Homo sapiens: one gene and its partner. The protein of the gene in region 1 interacts with the protein of each later gene in a pairwise test. Each region holds a gene or a part of one and is shown on either strand. Other genes may lie near its edges.

Region 1 (11,846 bases):
ATGCTAATGTTATGGGCTCAGCCCATTATCACAACCTAGATATTTTACCTGTTAAAATTGTGAAACTTTAGTTTTTCATTCTGTCAACCATGTATTGTCACTTGTCTTCAGTACTGAAATCCAAGCCACATTGTGTATTCTTTGATAATTTGGTAAAATAAGAGAGAAAATGAGAATCTGGTTTCCTAAGAGAGGAAAAAAGACTTTACTGTGAAGTTATGTGCATTTGATGCAGAAATGTTTCTTATTAACCTTTATATCTAGAAATAAATGGCTCAAAATTTGAAACTCGTTAAGTAATAGCAGATTTCAGAAGAGAAAATTTCAAACAGTTCTGATTGGTGAGGACTCTTGCTGTAGTAAATAATTTAAATGCCTGTAATAACTAAAGCCTGATGAGATGATTTATTGTGTGAATTATTAGGTTGCTTAATATTTTAGGGATCATTTTAAGGTATTCTTACAGGTTTTGAAATGCAAATAACAAGTCTTGATAACAATTAGATAACGACTTATTGGGCAAATCTTTGTCTTTTGTGTTTATAATATTGGGTTTGTACTAAGTAGGAAAGTATGCTTTTGAGATGGGAATTGAATAGTGAAAGTATATTGGTAGCTGGATCAGTAAAATTAAAACTCAGCTTTTATCTAATTACAGCTATTGTAGCATACGTGTATTCTAAGTACGCTAATGTAGTTTATCAAACTGAATTTTTCAGTTGTGCTCAAAGTAATGTATACTTAGTCTTATTTCTCTTTAATAGAATCTGATGAGAAGAGGTAGTTTGGAACTTTTATATGTATGGGAAATTGGTGTGTTATCAATAAATAGTTGTTACTAGAGAATAAGTCTACCATTCTGCTCTGATAACCTTATCAATTTTGTATTTTATTGGTTTAGATTTTTATGTTTAAGAGGGTAGAAGTCACATCTATAAAAAATTGCTCTCGTGTTAACTTCTCTGTGTGCTCAAAGAGATTTGTGGGCTGTTTTTCATGTACATGTTGATCCTACAGGGAAGTATTATACTATTATACATTTTCAACCAGTGTTTTGTTTTCATAGGCACCCAAAGAAATATATATGTTATCTAAATATGTATATATTTATTTTTTTCCTTAAGAAAGGAAAAAAGAGCGTAGACATCAATTATTTCCAGGGTTAGTAAATGTATTTTTGACAGCTGTGTAATGGAATTATTTTTTATCCTCAAAATATCTGACTATTTCCTAAGCAAAATGGTAGGATAATAAACTGACTTCTCTTTTGGGGAACCTACATGACAGAAAGGGTAGCCATTACAGTAGATACTCAGAATTTGTTCCCCTGTGTCTCTTTATTGTGCTTATTTTTAGACGGAAGATTTTGAATTTGTGTGCTAAAAATGTGTGTTCACAAAAATAGGGAAATATATTACTTTAGTTTTCCACTTTAATGGTTTTTATTTGAATGATTCTTTTTCCAGAAAAATTTAGATTTTTTTTTTGCATCCTAAATACTTAGCTGAGGTGCTAAAAACAAATACGTTAATTTCCACTTCAAATGCAGTTTTATGCTTAAAAAATATATGTATATTTTGAAAATGACGGTATTCCAAAATAGTGTTTGTCAGGTTGCTGTTTTTCATGAGGACTAGCTCCTTTCCAAACCACAAATCTGCTTCTGTATTTTCAGTTCCACCTCTCAGTTTCTTTAGATTTTTTTTCGGTGTCCTAATTCTGTTGTAAATGACCTATAAAATTAAAGGAAAAGAAAAGAAAAAAAAAGTATACTTTTGCTTTGTTTGAATAATTTGCTAAAATAAGATCAAATTTATCTTAATAAATTATTTAACTGATAGGGCAACAAAATATACATTGTTTTATAAGCTGTATTTTGCTAATTTTGAAGTCATTAGGATTTCTGTTAAGCACTTTACTTAGATTAATGTATGCTTTAATGTACTCTATTATAAAGTGTCAGTTGTAACTCTATACCTAGTAAATGTAAAAGTTAGGCCTAGTCTAATTTCTACAGTACATTTAGTTACAGAATTTGTGAGCAAGAACCCTTTGTAAATGAAACTATTTATATATTTTCCATGTTTCTTGTGCTTGGAATTCAATGAGTGTCTTGGATCTGTGGGTTTATAGTTTTTATCAAATTTAGAAAAGTTTCAGTCATTATTCCTAGAAGAAAATATATACATATATATATATATATATATATATATATATATATATATATATATTTATTTATTTATTTATTTGACCTCTTCACCCTTTTGGAAGTCCAGTTACATATATATTAGTAGCTTTGATGTTGTCTTAAAACTTACTGATGTTTAATTCAATTTTCTTTCAGTCTTCTTTGTTTCATTTTGGATAGTCTGTTGTGATGTCTCCAAATTTATTAATTTTTTCTTCTATAATGTTTAGTCTGCTCTTAATCCCACCCACCATATTTTTCATTCCAGATATTATAACTTCATCTTTAGAAATTGTCTTATATCTTCCATGTCTATGTTTTTCATGCTCTGTCTTTTCTCTAGCTTCTTGAACATATGGAATACAGTTATAATTGGCTTAATGTCTATGTCTGCTAATTCTGTCTGTGTCATTTTGGGGTTGGTTTCGGTTGATTGATATTTCTTCCCATTATGGATTCTGTTGCTTTTGCATGCCTGGTGATTTTTTTTTTAATTTGATGCCAGTCATTTGAAATTTTAGCTTGTTTGGCGCTGGATATTTTTGTATTCCATTAAATACAAAAATCTTGAGCTTCGTTCTGGGATGCATTAAGTTACCTGAAAACAGTTTGATCTTTTGGGGACATGCTTTTAAGATTTGTTAGGCAGTACTACTTTGTCACACTGTTGAGGCAAAACCCCTCTGAATACTCCAGCTGGTGGAAACAGGACCTACTTGGTGGTGTTCGCTCTCAGTCTTTTTGGTGGTTCTTTCACTATCTTTGGGTAGTTTCCTCACACTTATATTCTGATAAGTACTCAGACTTGAGGGATACCCTCTGCAGATCTTTCTCACTGTTCAACTCTGTTAAGTACTCTGCCCTGTGTACTTTAGCTACCTTGCTGTCTCCAGACTCAGTTCTGTCCCCTCAGCTCAGACCATTGTGCTCTGCCTGGATTCCCCTCTTCCTGTTCTGTGGCCTGGAAACTCTTTCAAGGCCATAATGCTGGAGCAGTTGTTGGATTCATGCTTGTTTCCCATCGATTGGGGATCACTGTCTTTTGTTGCCTGATGTCCAATGTCTTGAAAAACGTTTTATGTATTTTGTCTTTTTTTCCCCCCAGTTGTTTCAGGGAGGAGGGCAAATTTGGTCTCTGGCCACCAGTAGAAATATGTTTGTATACTTTTTTGTTTTTCAAGATGGGGTCTGGCTATGTTGCTCAGGCTGGAATATGTGATCATAGTGCATTATGGCCTCAAACTCCTGGGGTCAGGCCATCCTCCCACCCTAAACATCTGAGTAGTTGGGACTACAGGCACGCGCACCACAATGCCTGGCTGTTTATATACTTTTAATTACATTTTTGCTCTGCTAGTCTTATATTACTGCTTTTAGATGTGAGATGGACTTTTTTTATAGGAACCTTTTTTTTTTTTTTTGAAACAGAGTCTCGCTCCATGCCCAGGCGGGAGTGCAGTGGTGTGATCTCAACTCACTGCAAGCTCTACCTCCCGGGTTCACGCCATTCTCCTGCCTCAGGCTCCCGAGTAACTGGGGCTACAGGCACCCACCACCACGCCTGGCTAATTTTTTGTATTTTTTTAGTAGAGACGGGGTTTCACCGTGTTAGCCAGGATGGTCTCGATCTCCTGACCTCGTGATCCGCCTGCCTCAGCCTCCCAAAGTGCTGGGATTACAGGCATTAGCCACCACACCTGGCCAGGAACCTTATTATATAAGTTTTTTCATCTAAAATGTTTATTAAGACTAAGAAAATTGATTAATTTAATGACTCTGTTGTTGCTGTTTTGCACCCAGACTCTGAAAGTGAAGAGCTAACTTCTTCATGACACTGTTTACTGACTCTGCCTCACAATTTTGAAGTCTTTTCACTGACTTGAGATTTACTGTATTCAGAGATGAATCCTGAATTTCATTGAGTAGCTTTTTGAAGCAAATAATCTCTGTTAGAACTTGTAACATGACTTCAATCGTCTTAAACTAATGGGAAGGAAGAGGAAAGCTATTCAGAGATCTGGAATGATGGGCCAGCTCTTCTGTACGCTGTAGGGCATTTTCCTACTTCAGTGGATTGAAATCTTTTTTCTTTATTGTTATCAGTTGTAGGGCTTGGTGACAGTGAAGTAGAAATAATTATTTTCCTGTTTGAGATGTCATTTAATTCTGGAGCCAGTTTTGAATATTACTTGCTGTGAGTTTTTAAGGAATTTGTGACATTGTAGTTAATTTCATACTCCTAAAATTTTAAAAACGTCCAATTCATATTACCCAAACGGTTGAAAATATGGATGTCTTAGGATTTTAAGTACTGAGAAAATTGTTAATAGTATCAGAACAATATTTGGAATTATTATTTATGATTCAACCCTATTAGATAGTTATAGAGAGCTGTACTTGGAACACTTGGTAATTGTGATAAACTTGTTATGGCTTTTCCTTTAGAATTTTGGGTTTGAAGGGACTTCAGAAGTCATCTGCCCTTTTTTGTTTGTTTGTTTGCTTGTTTTTTTTTTTTGTTTTTGTTTTTGTTTTTTGAGACGGTCTTGTTCTGTTGCCCGGGCTGGAGTGCAGGGGCATGATCACCGCTCACTGCAGCCTTCACCTCCCGGGCTCAAGCTATCCTCCCACCTTAGCCTCCCAAGTACCTAGGACCACAGGCACGCGCTACCATGCTTGACTAATTTTTGTATTTTTTGTAGAGATGGAGTTTCACTGTGTTGCCCAGGCTGGTCTCAAGCGATCCACCCACCTCAGCCTCCCAAAGTTCTGGGATTATAGGCACAAACCAGCCTGACTCTTTGCTTGACTCTATTGACTAGGCTGTGAGTTTCCTGAAGCCAGGGACTCTATCTTTTGTCTCTGTATTCTTAGGACAGTGTTTGACACACAGTACATTCTTGATATATTTCTGTTGAATGATTGAATAATACAGCCATGTGTAGTAAAGTGGAATGAATTTGAGCCTTATGTCAGATAGACATAGACTTGGGTTCAGTTCTAGCTGTGCTACTTATTGGTATGTGAGCCTAATATCTCCAAATTACAGTTCCTACATTTATAAGATGGGAGATAATGTTTCCCTTCCTGATGGGGAAGGATTATCTACTAAGGCAGGGACAGATAAGTCTATTTTCTGTTTTGTTGACCCACTATATCCCCAGTGCTGGTTGCTGTCATTATTATTATCCTGTGCTATGCTATATCTACCTACTTATGGCTCCTCAAGTAAATCATGATAGTTCACAGCTTAGTTTTTTTGTTTGTTTGTTTGTTTTTGAGACAGGATCTCACTCTGTCACCCAGGCTGGACTGCAGTGGCACAATCGCAACCCACTGCAACCTCAAACTCCTAGGCTGAAGCAATCCTCCCACCTCAGCTTCCCAAGCAGCTGGGACTGCAGGCATGTGCTACTGCACCTGGCTAATTTTTTAAAATTTTTTTTATAGAGACCGGGTCTCACTTTTTTGCCCAGGCTGGTCTTGAATTCCTGGGTTCAAGTGATCCTCCCACCTCAGCTTCCCAAAGTGGCTGGCATTACAGGCATGAGCCACTGCGCCTGGCCGACAGCTTAGTTTTGTATGATCTCTGTTAGTGTCACCTCTATATAGCTGTATGATCTTTAGTAAGTTACTTAATTTGTAAGTGGGATAAAAAGTCACAGGATTGTTATGAGAATCAAATAGAATAATGTATGTACAATGCTTAACATATAGAAAGTGTCCAATAAATGTTAGCTCTTTATTGTTTTATTTATATTATTATCATTAGAATTATTTTCTTCAAGACCAGCGGTCCCCAACCTTTTTGGCAGCAAGGACTGGTTTCATGGAAGACGATTTTTACATGGAGCAAGGCTGAGGGGAGATGGTTTCAGGATGAAACTGTTCTACCTCAGATCATCAGCCATTAGATTCTTATGAGGAGAGTGCAACCTAGATCCCTCGCATCTACAGTTCACAATAGGGTTTGTGGTCCTGTGAGAATCTAATGCTGTTGTTGATCTGACAGGAGGCAGAGCTCAGGCAGTAATGCTTGCCCGCCCACCACTGATCTGCTGTGTGGCTTTCCTAACAAGCCATGGACCCAATCCATGGCCCAGGGGTTAGAGACTCCTGCTCTAGACTATCCTTCCCCTTTTCTTTGACTAACCAATTCCTGCTCTTCCTTTAATACCTTGTGAAGTCCCCAGGCAGAGTTGTTTTCTTCCTTATGATTCGGAAGTACCTTCACCTGCGTAGCTATTGCTTTGCAGTATTACTGTTTAGGGGCTAGATGTTTTGTCTCACATATTACTAGCACCTAACCTAGTACTTAGCATGTATCACTAGCACCTAGCATAGAAGTTGGCATGTCGTAAGTTGTAAGTAAATGTTGAAGGAATAAGTGAAGATAGCTGCAATTTTATTAATTTTCAAAATTTTGAGAATACCTTCTAGTTTTAGTACTGTAGAATTTAGTTTATTTTTTAGTTTGTCTTCTGTTTCTCCTTTTTGTTTGTTCTCTCTCTTTCCCCGTATTTGTTTTAATTACCTTTATTGGATATTTTTCCCACCGATGTTATATCTCCTTTGAGGCAAGGTGATAGGAGCAAGATTTCATGGTCCATGGTTTTTTATAGTATTAGAATATACAGTGCTTTCAGTTTGGTTTCCAATAACTTTCCTGTCCAATATGTTGAGTTTTTTTTTTTTTTTTTTTTTTTTGAGACGGAGTCTTACTCTGTCGTCTAGGCTGGAGTACAGTGGCGTGATCTCGGCTCACTGCAACCTCCTTCTCCCAGGTTCAACCAATTCTCCTGTCTCAGCCTCCTGAGTAGTTGGGATTACAAGGTGCCCACCACCGTGCCTGGTGAAGTTTTGTGTTTTTAGTAGAGACGGGATTTCACCATTTTGGCCAGGCTGGTTTCGAACTCCTGACCTCAAGTGATCTGTCCACCTGAGCCTCCCAAAATCTCATGCTGGGATTACAGGCATGAGCCACCGTGCCTGGGCCATGTTGAGATTTTTTTGTCCACAGCTTTGTATTGGACTGTCTTCAAGAAAAGTCCATTGTGATTGCCTCATTCTCAATATGATTCATATGTAGTTAAACTACAGAAATGATGAGAACCTAGAGAAGAACAGGTGAACTAGTTGTTATACCTGAGAGTATTTTTAAATTTTTTAACTGAAAATTTTCTCTTAATATATATTATGGGAGACTAGTTCTCACAGGATAAATGGAAAGGAAGACCAGTTCTTTCAAAAGGACACCAGCTGACTTTCTTTTAGGATCCATGAAACAGTTTGATACCATTCTAGGCATTAAGTTTTCAATATTCAGAAATAGTATTTGAGATTATACTTGGTACTGGGACATCTGTATAATACTTAATTTATTAATTAGTAAACTGGCTGCTTTTGGAGAGTCAGAGTGGTGGGAGGGCAAAAACAAAAACATGGGCTTGAAAGTTTAAATCCTGAATCAATCATTTAATATTTAGCTAGTTATTGAAACTGGAAAATTACTTTAAATGTTCTCTTTATTCCTGATTCTATTTTTATGCCTTCTTAGATCTATTTTACTAGTTTAATAATTTTTTTTTTTTTTTGAGACAAGGCCTCTCTCTCTTGCCGAGACTGGAATGCAGTGGCGAGATCTTGGTTCACTGCAACCTCTGCCTCCTGGGCTCAAACGATCCTCTCACCTCAGCCTCCTGAGTAGCTAGGACTACTACCATGCCCAGCTAATTTTTCTTTTCTTTTTTTTGTTTTTTGTTTTTTGTAAAGGCAGAGTTTTGCTGTGTTGCCCATTCTGGTTCCAATCTCCTGGGTTCAAGCTATCCACCACCTCAGCCTCCCAAAGTGCAGAGATTAGAGGCGTGAGCCAGTGTGCCTGGCCTACTTTAATAATTAATAAAAATAGGTGGATAAAACCCATCAACTTCACTCTGAGTGAGAGGAGATCTGCCCCTAACATTTGTAAGATCCAGGATAAGCATCCATTTACCACAATAGGCCTAAATATTTAAAGCTTATAAACCAGGCCAACAAATCATTATCTATATTCTAGTCTTTTCTCTTGATAAATATACCTTCATAATGACTTGAAAGTTTCAAATTTAAAATCTGTGGAATTTAGAATTCATAAATTCACAGTTTTGCAGCAGAGTGTGGTTAAGCCCAACCTCCTCCCGTCATCTCTGGCTCTTTCTAGCACCACAAAGAGGTCTCCTGTACATGCTGTGAACACCTTGCATGCACGCACAAGGTCTAAGCTCTTGTACTCCCATCCCCAAACAAGTACTCCTTGGCCCAAGGGTGTACACAAGTGTAGCACAGTCTTTTCTAAGGACAGACCTAGGAAAGAGGCCTGTGTGGGCCTTCAAATTGAGTTAGAAGTGCTTGGGCAAGAAATTGCAAAGTTCTGGGCACCTGGAGTGTCATTTAAAAGTGGGGAGGTAGGCCAGACTTGGGGGCTCACACCTGTAATCCCAGCACTTTGGGAGGCTGAGGCGGGTGGATCACTTGAGGTCAGGAGTTCAAGATCAGCCTGGCCAATATGGTGAAACCCCGTCTCTAATAAAAATACAAAAATTAGCAGGGCATGTTGGCGGGCCCCTGTAATCCCAGCTACTCGGGAGGCTGAGGCAGGAGAATCACTTGAAGCTGGGAGGCGGAGGTTGCAGTGAGCCGAGATTGCGCCACTGCACTCCGGCTTGGGTGACAGTGAGACTCTGTCTGAAAAAAAAAAAAAAAAAAAAAAGGGAGGTATATAGGCACATCCCCCTGTTTACATGGACTCCTCTCCCAGTGGAAGCATGTGGGCCGAGGAGGGCCGGAGTTGGACTCAGGGCAGAGCTCTCTCATCAGGATCTAAATGTAATACTCAGTGAGAGGGATGAAGGGCTAGTTCATTCAAAGATCAATTAATATGGGAATAGTTTCTAAGTACTTACTGTGTAATAAACTGTTAGATGCTAGGAATAGGATGCTTTGCCCACAATAAGGGGGAGGTGCATGTAAACAAATTGCAATGTGGTATCTGTGCCATGATAAGGAATTATGTTCTTGAGACAGTGTTCGCACAGAAAGGGAAGTGATGATTTACATGGAGGAAAGGCTTCTTGGAGGAGATGATGTTTGAGCTGGACATGAGAGCTCCGTAGGAGAAATCAGAGTGAACAGGAGTCATAAGTAGTGGGAGAGTGGAAGGAAGGACATTTTAAGCAAAGAAAATAGCATGAAAAAGAGGCATGAAGATGTAAATAACGGTGGAGGAATTAGGAAGTTTGAGAAAAGTGGAAACATTTTACAAGGCTGCTAAGAGGAAATCACAAAGAGTGTCAGTTAAAGATGAATACAAGTATTGTCATGCAGGGTTGATGGCTTATTTGAGATTTGGAAACCACACATTTGTAGTTGAGCCAGTGAGCATAGCATGGTTGAGTAACCAGTAATGCTTAGCTGCTCAGAAACTGACGAAAATACCTGTAGAATTTATTCAGAATTGGAAATTCTGAATAAACAGACGTGGGATGAGAGAAAAAACATACTACAGATTCTTAGCTGAATAGTTGAATAATAATGTGTGAGCATTAAAGTGAGGAAGAAAGCAAGTATCAGGAGGAACTTACAGAGTAAAGGTTGTGTTACTGGAAAGGGGTCCCAATCCAGACCCCAAGAGAGGGTTCTTGGATCTTGGGCAAGAAAGAATTTAGGGCAAGTCTATAAAGTGAAAGCAAGTTTATTAAGAAAGTAGAGGAATATAAGTATGACTACTCCACAGGCAGAGCAGCCATGAGGGCTGCTGATTGCCCATTTTTGTGGTTATTTCTTGATGATATGCCAAACAAGGGGTAGATTATTCATGCCTCCCCTTTTTAGACCATATAGGGTAACTTCCTGCCATTGCCATGGCATTTGTAAACTGTCATGGCACTGGTAGGAGTGTAGCAGTGAGGACAACCAGAGGACACTCTTGTCAGCATCTTGGTTTTGGTGGGCTCTGGTGAGTTTCTTTACTGCAACCTGTTTTGTCAGCGTGGTCTTTATGACCTGTATCTTGTGCCAACCTCTTATCTCAACCTGTGACTTAGAATGCCTAACTGTCCGGGAATGAAGCTCAGCAAGTCATAGCTTTATTTTACCTAGCCCCTATTCGAGATGGAGTTGCTCTGGTTCAAACGCCTCTGAGAGTTGTAATAAGAATGAAGGAAGAGTAGGTTAGAAGTGAGGGCATGAGAGAGGGTGAAAAGATAGGAGGTCAAGGTCAGAGTAGATTTTCAGAATTTGAGATTTTGGAGGTTGCAATTCTGAATAGTGATTAGGACCAAGATTAGACAGTACTAATGGGTGGATAAAATAGAATAAAATGAAGATACGTAAAGTGGAGAAGGAACTTTCTTCCTTATTTTTTTAATGAAACTATGATCTCTTGATTTAACACTAGAGGTAGAAGTTAGTATTTTGAATTAAAGTAGAAAGGGCCAGGCGCGGTGGCTCACACCTGTAATCCCAGCACTTTGGGAGGCCGAGGCAGGTGGATCACTTGAGGTCAGAAGTTCGAGACCAGCCAAGCCAACATGGTGAAACCCCGTCTCTACTAAAAATACAAAAGTTAGCTGGGCATGGTGGTGGGTGCCTGTAATCCCAGCTACACGGGAGGCAGAGGCAGGAGAGTTCCTTGAACCTGGGAGGTGGAGGCTGCAGTGAGCTGAGATCATGCCACTGCACTACAGCCTGGAAGACAGAGCAAGACTCTGTCTCAAAAAAAAAAAAAAAATTAAACTAGAAAGCTGGGCAATGAATAAATTAAGAAATAATGTAATAGTGGGGAAGGAAAAAAAGGTAATTGTTTATAACATTTTATTTTATTTTATTTTATTTACTTATTGTTTGAGACAGAGTCTTGCTCTGTCACCCAGGCTGGAGTGCAGTGATGCGATCTTGGCTCACTACAACCTCTGCCTCCCGGTTTCAAGCCACTTTCCTGTGTCAGCCTCCCAAGTAGCTGGGATTATAGGCACCCACCACCATGCCTGGCTAATTTTTGTATTTTTAGTAGAGACGGGATTTCACCATGTTGGCCAGGCGGGTCTCGAACTCCTGACATCAAATGATGCACCTGCCTCAGTCTCCCAAAGTGCTGGGATTACAGGCATGAGGCACCTTGCCCAGCCCATAACTTTTTATATTAACATAATCCTTATGTTAAAAATCAGACTTTGTGAGATATCTCAGTAGTCCTTCATGGAAAATTTTTAGACAGTATATTCTTTTTTTTTTCTTGAGACAGGGTCTTGCCCTGTTGCCCAGGCTGGAATGCAGTGGCATGATCACAGCTCACTGCATCCTTGACCTCCCAGTCTCAGATGATCCTCCTACCTCAGCTTCCTGAATAGCTGGGACTATAGGTGTATGTCACCATGCCTGGCTAATTAAAATTTTTTTTTGTAGAGATGGGGTCTTACTTTGTTTCCCAGGCTGGTCTTGAACTCCTGGGCTCAAGCAGTCCTCCCGCCTTGGTCTCCCAGAGTCCTGGGGTTATAGGCATTAGCCACTGTGCCTGGCTTGTATTCTTAATGTGACTGATTTTCCTGGTGAAGGCTAGAAAAAAAGTTGAACTTCACATTATCATCGATAACATAACTGTTAATGTCTCCTTTCCCTGGGT
Region 2 (16,980 bases), on another chromosome or scaffold:
ATGTAGACAATTACCAAGACACAATGTGATACACACATTGACATAATGGCTTAAATAGATTACATTAATTGAAGCTTACTCTTTATCAGCACAGTACAAAGCACTTTATGAATATATTATAGTATTAAGTCTCATGATGACCTGGTGAGGGTGGGTATTATGATCATCTTCCCTATTTGACAGCTGAGGGAATGTATTCTTCCAAGATTTTTTCTTGTAAATCCTAAATCTCATAAATCCTAAATTCCTGCCAACTTAAGACCAATCGCTATTCCCTAAGCAGTGTTATGCTTTTTACTTTTCATCGTTTAGCTCATATTATTTCTTTCTAGAATGCTACTCCCTCCATCCCCACTTTGCCTGTTCAAGTACATCTGACTTTCAGAGGTTAAAACAAACAATGCAATATCCCTCAGGAAGTCTTCCATGATGTTGAAATCAGAATTACTCTCACTCATATCTGGGCCTTTCAATATGGTTTATAAAGAATAATGGCCTAATTTGGACTTTAAATCTGGCTCCACTACCCATTAGTTAAGAGAGCTTGGTCCTATTACTCCACCTCTCTAAGCTGATTTTCTTTCTTTCTCTTTCTTTCTTTTTCTTTCTTTCTTTCTTTTTTTTTTTTTTTTTAATTGAGACACGGCCTCACTCTGTTGCGTAGGCTGGAGTGCAGTGGTAGGATCATAGTTCACTGGAGCCTCAATCTCCTGGGCTCAAGTGATCCTCCTGCCTCAGCTTCCCGAGTAGCTGGGACTACAGGCACGTGCCACCATGCCCAGCTAATTTTTTTAATTTTTAGTAGAGACAAGGTCTTGCTATGTTGCCCAATACAGTGGCTACTGTACAAGAGATGTATCGTTTCCACTTATCAAATAAGGAAACTAAGGCTCAGAGAGGTTAAGTAACTTCCCAAAGTCACACAGCTTAATCTGGAGCCAGATTATGAACCCATCTCTAATTCCAACCACTCAACCAACCAACCAACCAACCAACCAACCAACCAAAGAAAAACAAACTTAATGCCTCACCATAATATAGCAGAAATACGAAATAAGCAGAAATAGCCATATATGCTTATATAAACAGTATTCCTTTCTTCCTCACAATTCATTAATCTGGTCTGTACTCTAATGGAACTCTCCTCCTGCTCTAGATCTGTAGCATTTCTAGAAAATTATTTAAAGAAAAGCAATATATGTAAGGATCTTTAAGTCAGATGGTCAAAAGAAGTAAGCATACCTGAAGTAAGTTCTCTTCTTCACATAAATGTTTATCAACTTTCTTGTAGAGGTTATCTAGACCTTTTTTTACTTCCTTTCCAGGGTACTCCTTAATGACTTTACGAAGTTCTTGTTTGTTAAATGCAAGTTGGTAACTTACTTCCTCCTCCCTTATGCCCTGTGCCACGCGAGCTTCAACACCTTCAAAGAAATGCTTCAAGGAAATGAAAAGAAACAATGGCTAAGACCTGCATTTATTATTATTTACATTAAAAAAATCTGATTACAAAGTAGTGTATAATCACCATGCAAAAATCAGTGTGTGAAAGTATAAACAATAAAATAACAATCACTTATTAACATACTTCTGAGATGAACATTGTTAATATTGTAGAGTTCCTTGTAATCTTTTGATGTGTGAATACATACAGGAGATTAAAATTTCATGTCCCACTTTACATTTAATATTGTTTTTTCCTAAATATAAATTTTAATGGCTGCATAATATTTCACACAATGACTGAACCACAATTATTATTCATTCCTCTAGTACTAGATATTTAACATCCCACTCCCCCTTCTTTTTTTGGACTTGGCAAATCTAGTGAGACTTTAGAAAATCTACTATAAATATATTTGTCATAAATTTTTTTTGTATATAAGTATTTACCCATCTTACTGATTAAATTTCCAGGACTATAATTACTCTGTTGAAGAGCATAACTTTAAGTATTTGAAAGATTCTTCAGTATATATACAAACTGCTTCCTAGGAAAGCTCAACCAATTTATATTTCTGTCAACAGTGTATGAGGTTGCTACTTCACTATACCATCATAAGCATTATGACAATTTATAACAATAGTTGCCAGAGTAAAAAAAGTTTGTCATTTTATTTTATAATTCTTTGGCTATAAATAAGGTTAACCTGCTTTTATATGTTTAGTAGTGATTCAGCCCCTTGCCCCATTTATAAATTGGGGTCTTAGTGCTTTTCTTATTGATTTTAGTAAGATTTTTTATATTAAATATACTGACTCTGTTATATTATTGTAACTATTATTCCCAGGTCTTCTTTTATATATATACTTTTATTGACTGGCATAACTGTATTTGAGCACGATACAAAGAATTAATGCTGACAAACCCCATTCCCTCTCATTACTTTTTTCTAAAATTTTCTTAGTGATTATTCATTAAATTATCATTCTTTGAGAAGTTATTCTTAGTGCTTTAAAAATTTTGTTTTTACATAAGCTCTTAATTGGTAGACAGGAAATACATTGTTTTTCAGTATATTTGCTTTAAATTTTGTCACTTGACCAACACCAGTAATTTCAACATATCATATACAGGTGGTGATAATCTCGTCTCTGTTTTCCATATCTCTTATTTATGTTTCAGGTCTTGTTGAACTGGCTAGTGCTTCAACAACAATGCTAAATAATAAAGGATCTAACAATATTTCTGCTTTAAATTGATTTCAGAGGGAATGTCTCTAACGTTGCAGTTAAGTATCATGTAAGCTTTAGGCCTGAGATAGATCTTTTATCCAGTTAAAGGAATATTTGTCTGTTCTTAAGTTTTATAAGGAATTAGTTCTGCATTTGATTAAATGTCTTTCAAGTATTTCTTTGAATTGTTGACAGCAGATACATATTCTTTTTTTTTGTTTTGTTTTGAGACTGAGTCTTGCTCTGTCGCCCAGGCTGGAGCGCAGTGGTGTGATCTCCACTCATTGCAACCACCACCTCCTAGGATCAAGTGATTCTCCTGCCTCAGCCTCCCAAGTAGCTAGGACTACAGGAGCGTGCCACCACGCCCAGTTAATTTTTTTTTACATTTTTAGTAAAGACGGGGTTTCACCTTGTTAGCTAGGATGGTCTCGATCTTCTGACCTCGTGATCCGCCTGCCTTGGCCTCCCAAAGTGCTGGGATTACAGGTGTGAGTCACCGCGCTATTTTACTCTAACTTCAAGTTAAGAGCTTATAAAAGATAACTATATTGCAGACAAAGTTAGTTTAAAAGGTTCATTTAAGCTTTCACTATCTTGTAAAGTTCCCTAAAATCATCATTTCTTAACTTTAATTAACAGACTTACTCTGGGAAATGACTCAAGTAAGGAAAAAAAAAGAAGGGAAAGAAAAGTAAAAGGCAATGTAGAAAGCAATTTTTGGTTTTTCTTTTATCTTAATAATATTTTTGAAATTTCCACCTAGACATTGTAAACTTGGTCATTTATAAAGTAAGAAATGGGAAAGAGTAACGGCAAAGCCTAATCTAGGTTCATCCCCCAGCTTTGTAATTTATAAGCTATTATGATGTCGGGCAAGTTTTTTTACTTTCAGTTTCTTCATTTGTGAAATGGGGATAATATTATCTTAGCTTACACATCATTGTTTATAAGAATTAAAAGAAATAATGCATAATAGAATACTAGTACAATTATCATTAAAATATAGTAGATAAATAATGTATAAAAATAATGTACAGAAAGAAGAAATAAAATATATAGCATCTAGCAGTGTCTGGCACACTGGCAGCTTCAATAACTGAGTCCCCTGTGCACCAACACATGAGAAAATTTAAGATAAATGTCTGCAGGTTATTCATATGCAAACTTATGTGTATAGGTTCAAAAGTAGGAAAAATACTGAATGAAAATATATTTACATTTAGTTTTTCAAGAGGTTGTCCTAAAGAGTAAATGACATAAGACTGAAGGTGATCTGTGTATTTTTGTTTGGCTTCTTTTTTTTCTGCTTCTAGACATGAGATTTTCAATCGAGAAAGAGTTGCAAAAATATGGTGAAAGTTTTCCATCATAACCACATCCCTGGGGGTCTTCTGGCTTTCATTTGCTACTTTCTCCACTAAAACCAAAACAGAAAAAATAAAATAACATCTCTGAGTATGACCATATTTAGCTATAAACATTTATACTATTAATTTTTTTTCATTTGTAAGTTTAAGAATTAAGCACATTTCTGGACTTAATACAATATATTGTAATGGGAGTCTTCAGATCTACCTAATCATAATAAAAAGTCATCCTAAAACAGTCCCATGTGTATATGGAAATTCAGTATATAATAAAAGTAGCTTTTCAGATCAATGGAGAAATGATGAATTATTCAAAATGTGTTAGGACAACCGGCTGGACCATTTTAATATATGAAATTTAAGTTCCTACTTTACATCTTGCAGTCAAATTCTAAATTGCTAAATTATTTAAAATGTAAAAAGCAAACAAATAATACAATCATAAGTACTAAAGAAAATATAACTAATAGAAAAATAATAATTTTGCAATAGTGTGACCTTGCTAAGAATGGCCCAAAATTTAGAAGACTGTTAAGGGGAAAGATAAATAAATTGGAGATAAAATTTGAAAATTCATGTAAAGTAAAGACACCATATACAAAATCAATGAAATGCAAAATAAAATAGTGAGATAATTTATAGCCTATCAGGTTGACAAAGAATAAAAAGATTGGTAATACCTAGTAAAACCCAGCATTGGTACAGCTGTAATGCAACTGCTCATAGCACTAAACTGACATAAGCTTTCTGTATCACAATTTGGGAAAAGACTTGAGATACATAAATCCTTTGACCCAGTAATTCCATTTCTAGTAATTTACCCTAAAGAAATTATTTGACAAGTATACAAAGATAGATAAACTAAAAAAATCCTAAATGTTTATTAATAGAAGATTTGGTAAATGGATAATGACATATGGATGACTATGCAATCATTAAAAATGATTATGTTTATCTATATTAACTAACTAAGAAAGATACTAAGATTATATAGAGTCCAGCAGCTTCAAAAATAGTGTGTCAGGTATGACAACACTTTTATATTAAAGAAAGCACACATACAATATGCCCATATATAGAAGAGAGGGACAGGGAATTTAAAAGTTTGGAAGAATAAAAATTTAACATTATCTCTGTACAACAAGATTAAAAATGATCTTTACTTTCTTCTTGATTTGAAAATTCTATTCGCTGATTTTTGGGGATAAATAGTTATTTATGTTTCAGGTCTTGTACTGGCTAGCACTTCAATAACAATGCTAAATAATAAAGGATCTAACAATACTTCTGCTTTAAATTCATTTCAGAGGGAATATCTCTACTGTTGCAGTTAAGTATCATGTAACCTTTAGGCCTGAGATAGATTTTTTATCCAATTAAAGGAATATCTGTCTGTTCTTAAGTTTTATAAGTTTTAGTTTATAAAGATTTATAAAGAACGAATAATGAATTCATTCATTCATTTATTATTTATTTTTAAGACAGGGTCTGGCTTTGTCATCCAGGCTAGAGTGCAGTAGCATGAACAAGGCTCACTGCAGCCTTGACCTCCTGAGCTCAAATGATTCTCCTGCCTCAGCCTCCTGTGTAGCTGAAACTCAGGGACACACCACCACGTCTGGCTAATTTTTTAAATTTTTTTTGTACAGACAAGGCCTCACTATGATGCCCAGGCTGGTCTTGAACTCCTGGGCTCAAGCGATCCCCCAACTGGTCCTTCCAAAGTGCTGCGATTACAGGTGTGGGCCACTGTGCCTAGCCACATTACTTTAGAATCAGATAAAGCAAAGCTACTTTGAATTTTAAAAGAAAAAATCAAGGCTGGACACGGTGGCTCATGCCTGTAATCCCAGCACTTTGGGAGGCCAAGGCGGGCAGATCACTTGAGGTCAAGAGTTTGAGACAAGTCTGGCCAACATGGTGAAACCCTGTCTCTATTAAAAATACAAAAATTAGCCAGGCGTGATGATGCCTGCCTATAATCCCAGCTACTTAGGAGGCTGAGGCAGCAGAATTGCTTGAACTCGGGAGGTGAAGGTTGCAGCGAGCCGAGATTATGCCACCGCACTCCAACCTGGGCAACAATTGGTGAGATGATTCCATTTTCTATCAATTTTTTAGCTTTTACAATTCCTGAATATATGCAATCAGATCATTTATTTCAGATGAAATGACATGTCCAGACTTTTCTGTAACTTAATTGTGGGATCTGACACAGGAAGAAAGCGAATTACAGTATTTCAGCACTAATTTCTCTTGTATTTTAGTACTAATTTCCTTGTATAGTAGATATGAAAAACTGAGTCCTAAATAAGTGAATTGATTTGCTTAAGGTTACACACACATCACAGCCCATCATCTCTAGAAGACCACTTGTTAAAATGCAAATGTAATCTGGAAGGTCATGTTTTTGTGTTTAAAAAATGATTTTCTACAAAAAATTAGCAGGGCATGGTAGGGTGCACCTGTAGTCCCAGCTACTTGGGAGGGTGAGGTAGGAGGATCTTTTGAGCCTGGGAGGTGGAGGTTGCAGTGAGCCAAGATCATGCCACCGCACTCCAGCCTGGGCGACAGAGTGAGGCCCATCTTAAAAAAAAAAAAAAAAGATTTTCAATTTTGCATAGTCATAAGCCCACATAAACCCTAAAATGTAAGTGGTTCATAATGAATACAAATAGGTTTTATTTTCCAAATTCAAGAAATCTTTAATGTTAGAAAACCTAAAAAAGATTATAAGATATACAAAATAATGAACCTATCTGCTCCCGATTTCTTAGTTACCAGAAATAAAAACAATAGCTATAACAATTCTTTAGAACATAACAAAAGCTTACCATTAACAAATACTCCTCTGATAAGTTTGGTGTATGCTTTATCCAGGTCTCCACGACGCTCAGCATTTTTGAAGATTGATTCTGCAAGTCCAGCAAATTCTTCAAATTCAGCAACAAATGGAAGAATTCCAACTTTACTCTTTTTTGAGATCTTTACTTCTTCCATTTGCCTTATTTGGTTACTCTAAAGTTAGGCAGAGAGCAAGGGAGATAAATAACCAAGCAACTTTAAAACTACATATAATCATAACAAAATATATAGATGGAGATATAGATATATACATAGATATCATAGAGGCAGGATATTATGTGGTACCTAGAACACTTTGGATGCTTACTAATTGAAGATGAATCAAAACAAGGATAACTAAGAAAAACTAATTCTATAGATAATAAAACCATTTTACAGTAAGTTTAAGAAAATCAAAATAATACAGATTATTTAAAACCATCTATAAGCTGGGGACGGTGGCTCATGCCTGTAATCCCAGCACTTTGGGAGGCCAAGGTGGGTGGATCGCTTGAGGCCAAGAGTTCAAGACCAGCCTGGCCATTTTCGTCTCTACAAAAAATACAAAAAAAAATTAGCTGGGTGGGGTCGTGCATGCCTGTAATCCCAGCTACTTGGGAGGCTGAGGAATGAGAATTGCTTGAACCTGGGAGGCAGAGGTTGCAGTGAGCCAAGATTGCGCCACTGCACTCCAGCCTGGGTGACAGAGCAAGACTGTCTCAAAAAATAAAATGAAACAAAACAAAATACAATCAAGGCCGTGAACTTCAAGTCTCTGTACAAAGTAAAAACAGTCAACACACATTTCTACCATTTATGAAAGATGAGTACAAGGCAATTACTGATTTTAGGTTACAGGAGAGAAGATTCCAGAGCACCTATAGGATCCCTCCGGGTAACTTCTGGTTGGTGGCCACGTGGTCAAGTTTGAGAACCACAGTCATTTCCAATTTTCGTCAGTCTAAAATTTCTGTCTGGATAGACAAACTCTCTATTTTCAGAGTACAGAAACAAAGAGGGAGGATAGGCATTTCCATATGGATTTGCATTATTTAATTTTCCATATATTTATTAGTCACTTAGCCTTAGTTCCACAAACTGCTTGTGCATTATATGACAAAATGCGAAAGAAATGTTTCATGCAGACAGAATCTTAGGTTCAAAACGATCCACGGATTCAATTATGGTTCTATGATTCTGAAGGGATCTAAATCTACTCAGTAGGAATGATTACACTGCCAAATACTTTTGTATTATTTCAGCTTCTACCTAACATTTCATTGTGTTGAGATTTGGGGAGTATAACTCAAAAACCATATGACACATGGATTAGAAAAATAATTATCTCTAGGCTTCTGACATTAGTATAAGAAAACCCTAAGAGTATAGTCAGTTATTTCATATTATCTGTACTAATGTTCTACTTCATCAGTATTGGTAACTGTGAGGTGAAAAACAGATGCAGTAGAAAAGGTAGTGGTAAGATTGCAGGTACTAGAACCAGACTTTCTGGGTTTGAATACAAGATCCATATTTTTTAACTGTGGACCTGGGGAAAGTAACTTCACCTCTCAAACAATCTACCTTATTGAGGGGCTGGGTTTAAGATTAGATGACATAATGTGTGCAAAGTGCCCAGACTTGTGCCTGGTACACAGTAAGCACTCATTTATAAATGCTGTCTATTGATCTTATTGACCAGTGTTCATAAATGAGAGATAAGATCTTATCAAAAATAAGACATTATTGAAATAAGATATACAGAAGTATGACAGGCAGAAGAAACCACCCTCCTCTTCAGTGGCAAACCTATGTCCTTTATATATATATATGCAACTTATGAGAAAATATGAATTTATATCTTTGTCTAGATTACCTTCTCTAGTGCCATGCCTTGAGAAGTGTTCATGAAGCATTTTTTAACCTGGCCTAGCCCAATTCATACATACAAGTATAAAAAATGTAATGGATAGATGGCCGGTGTCTCTTGCTTGTAATCTCAGCACTTTGGGAGGCTGAGGTGGGCAGATCACCTGAGGTTGGGAGTTTGAGACCAGCATGACCAACATGGAGAAACCCCATCTCTACTAAAAATACAAAACTAGCAGGGCGTGGTGGCGCATGCCTGCAATCCCAGCTACTCGGGAGGCTGAGGCAGGAGAATCACTTGAACCCAGGAGGCGGAGGTTGCGGTGAGCCGAGATTGCACTGTTGCACTCCAGCCTGGGCAACAAGAACGAGACTCCATCTCAAAAAAAAAAAAAAAAAAAAAAAAAGTAACAGATAGTAAGAAAGTTGTCAAATTTTTTTCTATTAGGAGGAAAATGATAATTGCTCAGTTATAACAATTTATTCCTAAAATAAAATACAATTATTAAAGCTACTAAACTATTAAAATAAATTAAATAATTAAAATAATCAAATTAGTTTTCTTACTAGAATGTATTAAAAGAAGAACAATAACAATAAACCCAAATGATTGTTTCAATTGTTTCATTAAATCAATGGTCATTGACTAATAAACTGAGATGTCAGTGATTCGGTAGATTTTTTTTTTTTTTTTTTTGACACAGTCTTCACTCTTGTCACCCAGGCTGGAGAGCACTGGTGCAATCTTGGCTCACTGCAACCTCCACTTCACAGGTTCAAGCAATTCTCCTGCCTCAGCCTCCCGAGTAGTTGGAATTATAGGCATGTGCTACCACGCCCGGCTAATTTTTGTATTTTTGGTAGAGATGGGGTTTCGCCATGTTCTCCAGGCTGGTCTCGAACTCCTGACCTCAGGTGATCTGCCCACCTCGGCCTTAAAAAGTGCTGGCATTACAGGTGTGAGTCACTGCGTCTGGCCTCCAGTGGATCTCTTAAGCAACTGGTGCCACTGTGCCACTTCCTCCAGAACTTGCCAAGATTCACAGTGTGGAATGGAAACTAGCTGGCATAGTGCCACCCAACTAACTCTGTTCATGTAGATTGTTGCCATGCCCTGCTTCGAGGGACATAAACAACAGATTCCCCAACAGAAAGCTGGAAATCCCTCGATTTTAAATACATTTACCTATATTTTGCAATGACTAGGATGCTAAGGTATTTTTTTAAAAAAGAAAACTTACAATGCATTTGTCAAAGTTCCTTTTGACAGTCACCAAAACATTTCCCAATGTAGTACTTAGGAAAGAAGCAGGGTCCACATTTTGTGCAGTCCACACATGATGACTCATTTTGACTAACATATAAAGAGAGTTAAAGCTATCAATTTTGTCTCCTAATGCAATTAGGTTGTTCAGCTCTGGCTCAATGCAGCGAAATATTTTAATCATCATTTGGCGGATCATATCTTTCCTGTTCAGAAAACAGACAAGAAGTATAAAGTTATAACAAGCTTCAGGTGAATTCACCGTTAACTTTAATCCACTGGGTATATACAAAAGGACAAAAATACCATAATTAAATTTCAATTAAAAATGTCTAAATAGCCAGGCGTGGTGGCTCACGCCTGTAATCCCAGCACTTTGAGAGGCCAAGGTGTGCAGGTCACCTGAGGTCAGGAGTTCAAGACCAGCTTGGCCAACATGGTAAAACCCTGTCTCTACCAAAAGTACAAAAATTAGCCAGACGTGGTGGTGCATGTCTGTAATCCCAGCTACTTGGGAGGCTGAGTCAGGAGAATCGCTTGAACCCGGGAGGTGAAGTGCAGTTGCAGTGAGCTGAGATGGCGCCATTGCATTCCAGCCTGGGCAGCAGAGGGAGACTCCATCTCAGAAAACAACAACAACAAAAAACAAATAAAAATGTCTAAATATGATTATAGTAGTTTTTGATATAAAAATATTTTACTGATGTTGGGTTTTATCATTTGAATTAGTTTTAATTTGTAAAGCTGGGTCATGAAATGTGCTTTGTGATTTCTAAGAAATACACTACAATTCAAAGGCTTCCCCCTACCAGCAAACAACAGACTGACTTCATCTTCTGTAAGTCCTGGAGCAAGGAAGAGTTGAAGAGCCATAAAATAGGCCCTATTTTAAATCAGTAAAACGTTTGATAAGACAATGGACACACATGCTGGTACTGTGAGTGCTGTCAGGCTACTGAGAAACATCTAGACCCCTCAATGAGCAGCACTCCACATTTTAAAGTTTATTTTTTCCAAAATAAACAATGATAGTAACAAAGACATACTCAGATGAAACAGGCAGTGGTGTGCCACAATTATGTTGCCGTGATAATGTTCCTCCATCCAGGTCCTCTGCTTCAGCCTGCAAAAATTATTCAGGCACTTTACATAATAAAAGACCAACAATTTGACTAGTATTGATATAGCAAAAGCCTGCTCAGTCTTAAAATTCCTAGGAAAGAATACATTATGAAAAATATTTTTAAAGGTAGCATTATGATAAAGCTAGCTATATAATTTAGTATGCTATTTAAGAATGTTCATGAGATACTCTTCTTAGGTTTTATCCAAGAACTTTTGTGGGGTGAGAAGTTGTATTTGTGTGTGCACCTGAGGGGAAGTAGGGAGGTACAGGAAGCTGAACGCAAGGTGTGGGAGTGGGGGCAGCTTGACAACAACCACCACAAAAATAGAAAACGTCCAAACACAACTTTCAAAAGAGAATTTAAAAAATTAAGGAAATCTCATCAATTATTCTAATAGAACTTCAGCATTAAAAAAATGCTATAAAAAATTCTTACAGAGGCCAACAAATAAACAAATTTGCCACCATTACTACCATAACAATGAACACTCTAAACCATTTATCATAATCCATTTCTCATTTATTTTATGACTGCTTTTATAAGTTGGTTGTCTGTGGCATACAATTTTGAGATGATAATTTAAAAAACACTTTATTTGCACTGTTTTTAAGTTCTTCAAAATACTCAAGAAACTCTCTCATCTTATTCTCTTATATGTATGCTACCAGAAAGGCATGCTGAATAGGCACTATGATATCTACTTTACAGAAGAGGAAAGCTGGGGATCGAATAACTGGCTTAAGATCTCATGGCTAGTTAGTAACAAAGCCACAAGGAAGGCAAATCTGAGGCCTCATTTTCTTTTATTTATCATTATTGTTATTTGGTATACCAAAGTGTATACACTCTAACATCATTTTAAAACATTATATTTATCTTGATGACTACTAAAATGTTAAACTAGCCTTTTAAATAATGTTCTTTGCAAAGTAAACTCAGACATTCCTCCCCCCACTAATTTAGAGAATATTTAGGCTTGTAATATTCTGAAATATTAAATTAGATGCCCAAACTTCATCTGTCACTGTTTTTATCATCTTGTGGTATTACAAAAATTCCTTACATCCTAAATCCTTACATCATAAAAAAATCCTTACATGATAAATTCTTTCCTTTTCTCTTCTGATCATAAAATTGTGACCACATATTAATTAAGCTAATTATATTACAGATCATAAATACTATCCAAAATACACTGTGAGCCATACCATAGTTCCAGGCATACTTTGATGTTGCTGTAGTTTGAAAAATTTACTTATGAAGTCCTGTTCTGCCAGACATAGGGGCTCCAGTTCACTTAGTACCTGTTCAAAGATCTGAAGAAAACCAAAGTGATCCTATAACGAAAGAACTGCACCAAATGCTTAAAATAACACTCCACATTTAATTTTCTTTTCTGCACAGACCATGGATCCATAATCTCACTAATCTATGAATTTATAATCTCAATGGAATCCCAAAAACAAACTCTTCCAAGATCTACAGGACAATGGTATTAGCAAGGTATAACAAGGCCACAAAATAAACCTAAAATAAAACTCACAGTTATTCACTTCACATCTGGAAAGAGGAGCACAAAGATCAACTTTTAAAACTTATTTATGGCCAGGCATGATGTCTCATGCCTGTAATCCCAGCACTTTGGGAGGCCAAAGCGGGCAGATCACTTGAGCTCAGGAGTTCGAAACCAGCCTGGCCAGCATGGTGAAACCCCATCTCCACTAAAAATACAAAAATTAGCTGGGTGTGGTGGCAGGCACCTGTAATCCCAGCTACCTGGGAGGGAGGCAGAAGAACTGCTTGAACCCAGAAGGTGGAGGTTGCAGTGAGCTGAGACTGTGCCACTGCATTCCAGCCTGGGTGACAGAGCAAGACTCCATTTCAAAAACAAACAAACAAAAAAACTTATTTAATTTAGTACAGAGAAAGGCCAGCATCACAAAAGCTTTTATTTCCTCTTACTTTTTAGGTGCCCAAACAACTTAGATTTGAGATATAAGCATTTTATGATTTATAACAAATTTTAATAAAGCTTTTATGCCATTTCATTGATAATTCACATTTTACTTGTCCTTTGACTAGTTTTTTTTTTTTTTTTTCCCAGATTCGATTCAGTTGGAAAGACATGGTTAATGCTTAAGAGAGCCAGAAGAACCCAAATCTTTGAACACACTTAGAGCAACCACAAACTGCTGTTAGAAAACTAATGTTAATGTTTAAGAAGTACTTGTTATTTTAGTTTACCTTATCAAATTTGGTCCTGTCAGCAACATCGAGATCAGAGGCAGACATGTTTCCCATATCCAACAGGGAAGATGACTGAGATCTGCGATTCCCTGAACTCTGAACACTGAGCTTATTTAGACTAGAAGTAGATCCAGTTAATTTCCCCGAACTTCCATGAAGACCTAAGAAATAATAAAACTTTGAAAGTTGTGATCTTCACAAATAAATGATCCAAAGTATAAAGCAGGGATAGATCTTCTATCTTCTACTGGCTTGATCTTCCAGGGCTCATATTAGTTAGTGCACAAATCTTCTATAAGGGATAGGTGGTATAGTTTCCTTATCTTCCATTAACATTGGTGTCCTAATTCTGAGCATATTGAAAAAAGAAGCGAAACTACACAGATCCATAGAACGGGACTGAAAGGGACCTTAAGGAGCATATTGTCTATAACCTGCCCATTTCATAAAGTCGCCTGGTGATATCGCTAGACTAAAGTAGATGAGGGTTTCTTTTCCATTCAAAAGGACAGGAATATGGATGAAGGTCAATGAGGACCACGTTAGCATATTAGCCAGCATGACTTTGTTATACTTCAGAAGAAAACTGCTGCATCTCAATGTTACCTCCACAATAAATCAATATATTAGGTTGAACCACATGAAACTGCCCATACTTGATCATTTTGCCCTACCAAAAAAAGTCAATTACATATGATTCAACTTAGTATGTTCCAAACTCTGAAACTGCTTTTCCAGTAAGTGAACTGATTATAGTCCTTTAAAAACTAAATAAAATGAACAGAAAAAACACCCTGAAAACTCGTTATATTTAAAATACAGCCGAAATGTAATACATACATCACTAATCATATTAATATGGGACATCTGTGTTTAGGTAAAATTTTGGTATCCGTCATAGCCATGAGGAAAAATGAGAACATATAGCTGGCAATAGCTCACATACACCAAGGAATTAAAGGATTTGATTTTTAGAAGAAAATGTGATATTTTTATTCAGAATTAAACATAAACAATAACTAATATATTTTAAAAACATCCTTCCTGAATATCTCTCAGTTAACTTGTACTATTTGCTAATGGTCAGAAAAGACAAATGAAGACAGAACAGGTACAATTAAAGATAAACTTTGGCTTCATTATGTAAAATCCGACCATATCTATATAAGATTTTTTATAGTTTCTAAACAGCCTGAAAATAGAAGTATAATGGTTAAGTCTTTTCACAAATTTCTGACACAATGTTCTACTACTCGTCAAGTAATTTTAACTATATCATATATTTCTTGGATACAGCCATATCACTACCATCATGTTGGCTTTCTTTCACCAATACCTGGCAATTCAGAGCAATCAAAATTTTTGGTGTTACCTTTTTTCAAGACAACTAATTTCTAGACATTAAACAAACATGCATTGAGAATACCTACTAATACACTAAGCATACTCACTCTCTGTTTCCTGTTTGACAGCACTTTCTTTTCGAGGCAGTGTAGCTGTGATGGATTAGGTTGCAAGCATCAAAGACAAAGACAAGTTAATAAACTGCAATTTGCACAAACCATGCACAAGAGGAAGTTAAAGCTCTAGTTTAAAAGACACATGCAAAGAACCATGAGCATCAAGTAACAAGAAGTGCAAACACATGTTTAGTTGGTCACCTACTGTTTGAGAAATTATATGAGAGAAAAAACTTTACTTTTAATGTATTGTTTTTACTCAAATATTCAGGTAGAAATATCTATGTGTAACCCCCCTACACTTTAAAATGTTTTTTTTTTTTAAGTTTATTAAGCTGGTACACTTAAATTTAAAAGACTAAATTTGCAAGTTTGGGTTTCCTGAGAAAATATAATTCAAGTAAATAAAGTGGCAATTTATTAGAATGCAGCTGCAGATTTAGATGTCAACAATCTTGTATTCCCTGAAAACTCCTGAAAGGATTCTCCACTGACTAAATAATTTTATACTATATCCAACAAAAAATTATATGAGTGGGGCTTTAAAACCACTGAAAAGTTAAAACTAATTATCAAGCTGAATTACTTAATCACTGGCTTTGTGAGTGCTCAGAATGAAAGATATATATCATAACACTAACAATCAGATGTATGAATAAAAGGGTAAAGTTTAGGGAACAGATGTAATATAAGAATTTGAACTCTTTTTAGGTCATTAGGCATTTCTTTTATCTAAAACTTCTCTCTCTATAATATTTATTAGATCAATATGAGAGCTAATTTTGCAAAAACAGTCTATACTCAAATTAGAAGTTGATGTGAAAGGTGAAGAAAGATCATAGGATGAAACAGAATGTTAAAGAATAAAACTAAAACCTAAAAATATCTTTAAAACAGCAAAAAGATGTGTCAACTGACATTATCCCTGCCAAGCTTCAAGGCAAAAATCTTGTCACATCAGTGACTGGTATATCTTCATCAGTGACAGGTATATCTTTCTAGCCTTGGCTACCTGAAGCTCAAGGGAATATGAAAAAACAAGGCTGGACATTAAAGTGGCAAACAGGGATCACGCTGGAGCTACTAGCTAGCCAATCTGAACAGTACTTTCTGGTGCCTTAAGGTGTCACTATGCTATGTTCAGCAGTGCCAGAGCAAAATCTAATTCTTTATATGGTTTCCTTTTTTTTTTTTTTTTGAGGCAGGATCTCATTAGGTTGACAAGGCTGGACCTGAACTCCTGGGCTCAAGTGATCCTCCTACCTCAGCCTCCCATATAGCTGAGATTATAGATGTGGATCACCATGCCTGACTAGTTTTCTTTCTTTAGTAGTCAATAAGGAATACAGACTTAGTAGTAGTGCCTATTAATTATAATTTGAGGTTCATAAAACAGCCTATATCCCTTATCAGCAAGTGATAACACTCAGGTAAAATGTTAAATATCTTTATATAATCCCCACTAGAATGTAAACTTCATAAAGGTAGGGTCTTTGTTTACTGCTGCATTCCCAGTACTTATAACAGTGAGTTATTAGATAATAGGTAATTTATAAATATTTATTGAGTTAATCTTCCAGCCATCCCTGAATTCAGCATTGTATTCACGACTCTTTGGAATCAACAAGGTTTCCTAGTTTAGCGGAGAAACAATAATAGAATAATCTTGGCTATTTTAAAGATTTGGAATATTAAATTGGAAGGAGGGCAATGATTATGTAAATGTATGTATTAAGGGACTAATGAGAGGTGATATATATATCTCAACAGTAGAAAGTAAAAATGGTGACTAAAAAAAAATTACTAAATTTCCTTTCCCTGTCATTTCATTAAATTTGTAGAATACAAAGGAAAAAAATACACTGAAACATCAATCCTGTGGGAAAAAATTCCATGCCTTTGAAAATATCAAAATAAATCTATTTAAAAAGGCAGTAACCTACACAAAGGTCTTATCACAAAGAAAAGCTACTTCCCTGGTACGTTAGCATAATTTTGAATTATTTCAGCTAAGTAGATGTTAAAGACTTGACTCAAGAGTGGCTGAAAAAGAAAGGATTCTCTATTCCCCTGATTCTCTATCACTATATTGACTATATAGTTTCTTTTTGTAAGATGCATTC

Evidence for each region.
Region 2: the proteins of CCDC88A (region 1) and EXOC1 interact in a two-hybrid assay, tested with the Homo sapiens proteins (2 studies listed by BioGRID and IntAct).

The regions. Positions count from the first base shown.
Region 1 is NC_000002.12:55,406,829-55,418,674, reverse strand, and holds part of CCDC88A (girdin), read left to right. Parts: intron 1-11,846. UniProt on the Homo sapiens protein: Bifunctional modulator of guanine nucleotide-binding proteins (G proteins). Acts as a non-receptor guanine nucleotide exchange factor which binds to and activates guanine nucleotide-binding protein G(i) alpha subunits.
Region 2 is NC_000004.12:55,886,801-55,903,780, reverse strand, and holds part of EXOC1 (exocyst complex component 1), read right to left. Parts: intron 14,894-16,980; coding exon 14,849-14,893; intron 14,190-14,848; exon of another isoform or gene 13,559-14,189; coding exon 13,395-13,558; exon of another isoform or gene 13,255-13,394; intron 12,467-13,254; coding exon 12,359-12,466; intron 11,237-12,358; coding exon of another isoform or gene 11,228-11,236; exon of another isoform or gene 11,147-11,227; coding exon 11,070-11,146; exon of another isoform or gene 11,069-11,069; intron 10,230-11,068; coding exon 10,001-10,229; intron 7,065-10,000; coding exon 6,881-7,064; intron 4,097-6,880; coding exon 3,897-4,096; intron 2,947-3,896; exon of another isoform or gene 2,627-2,946; intron 1,438-2,626; coding exon 1,243-1,437; intron 1-1,242.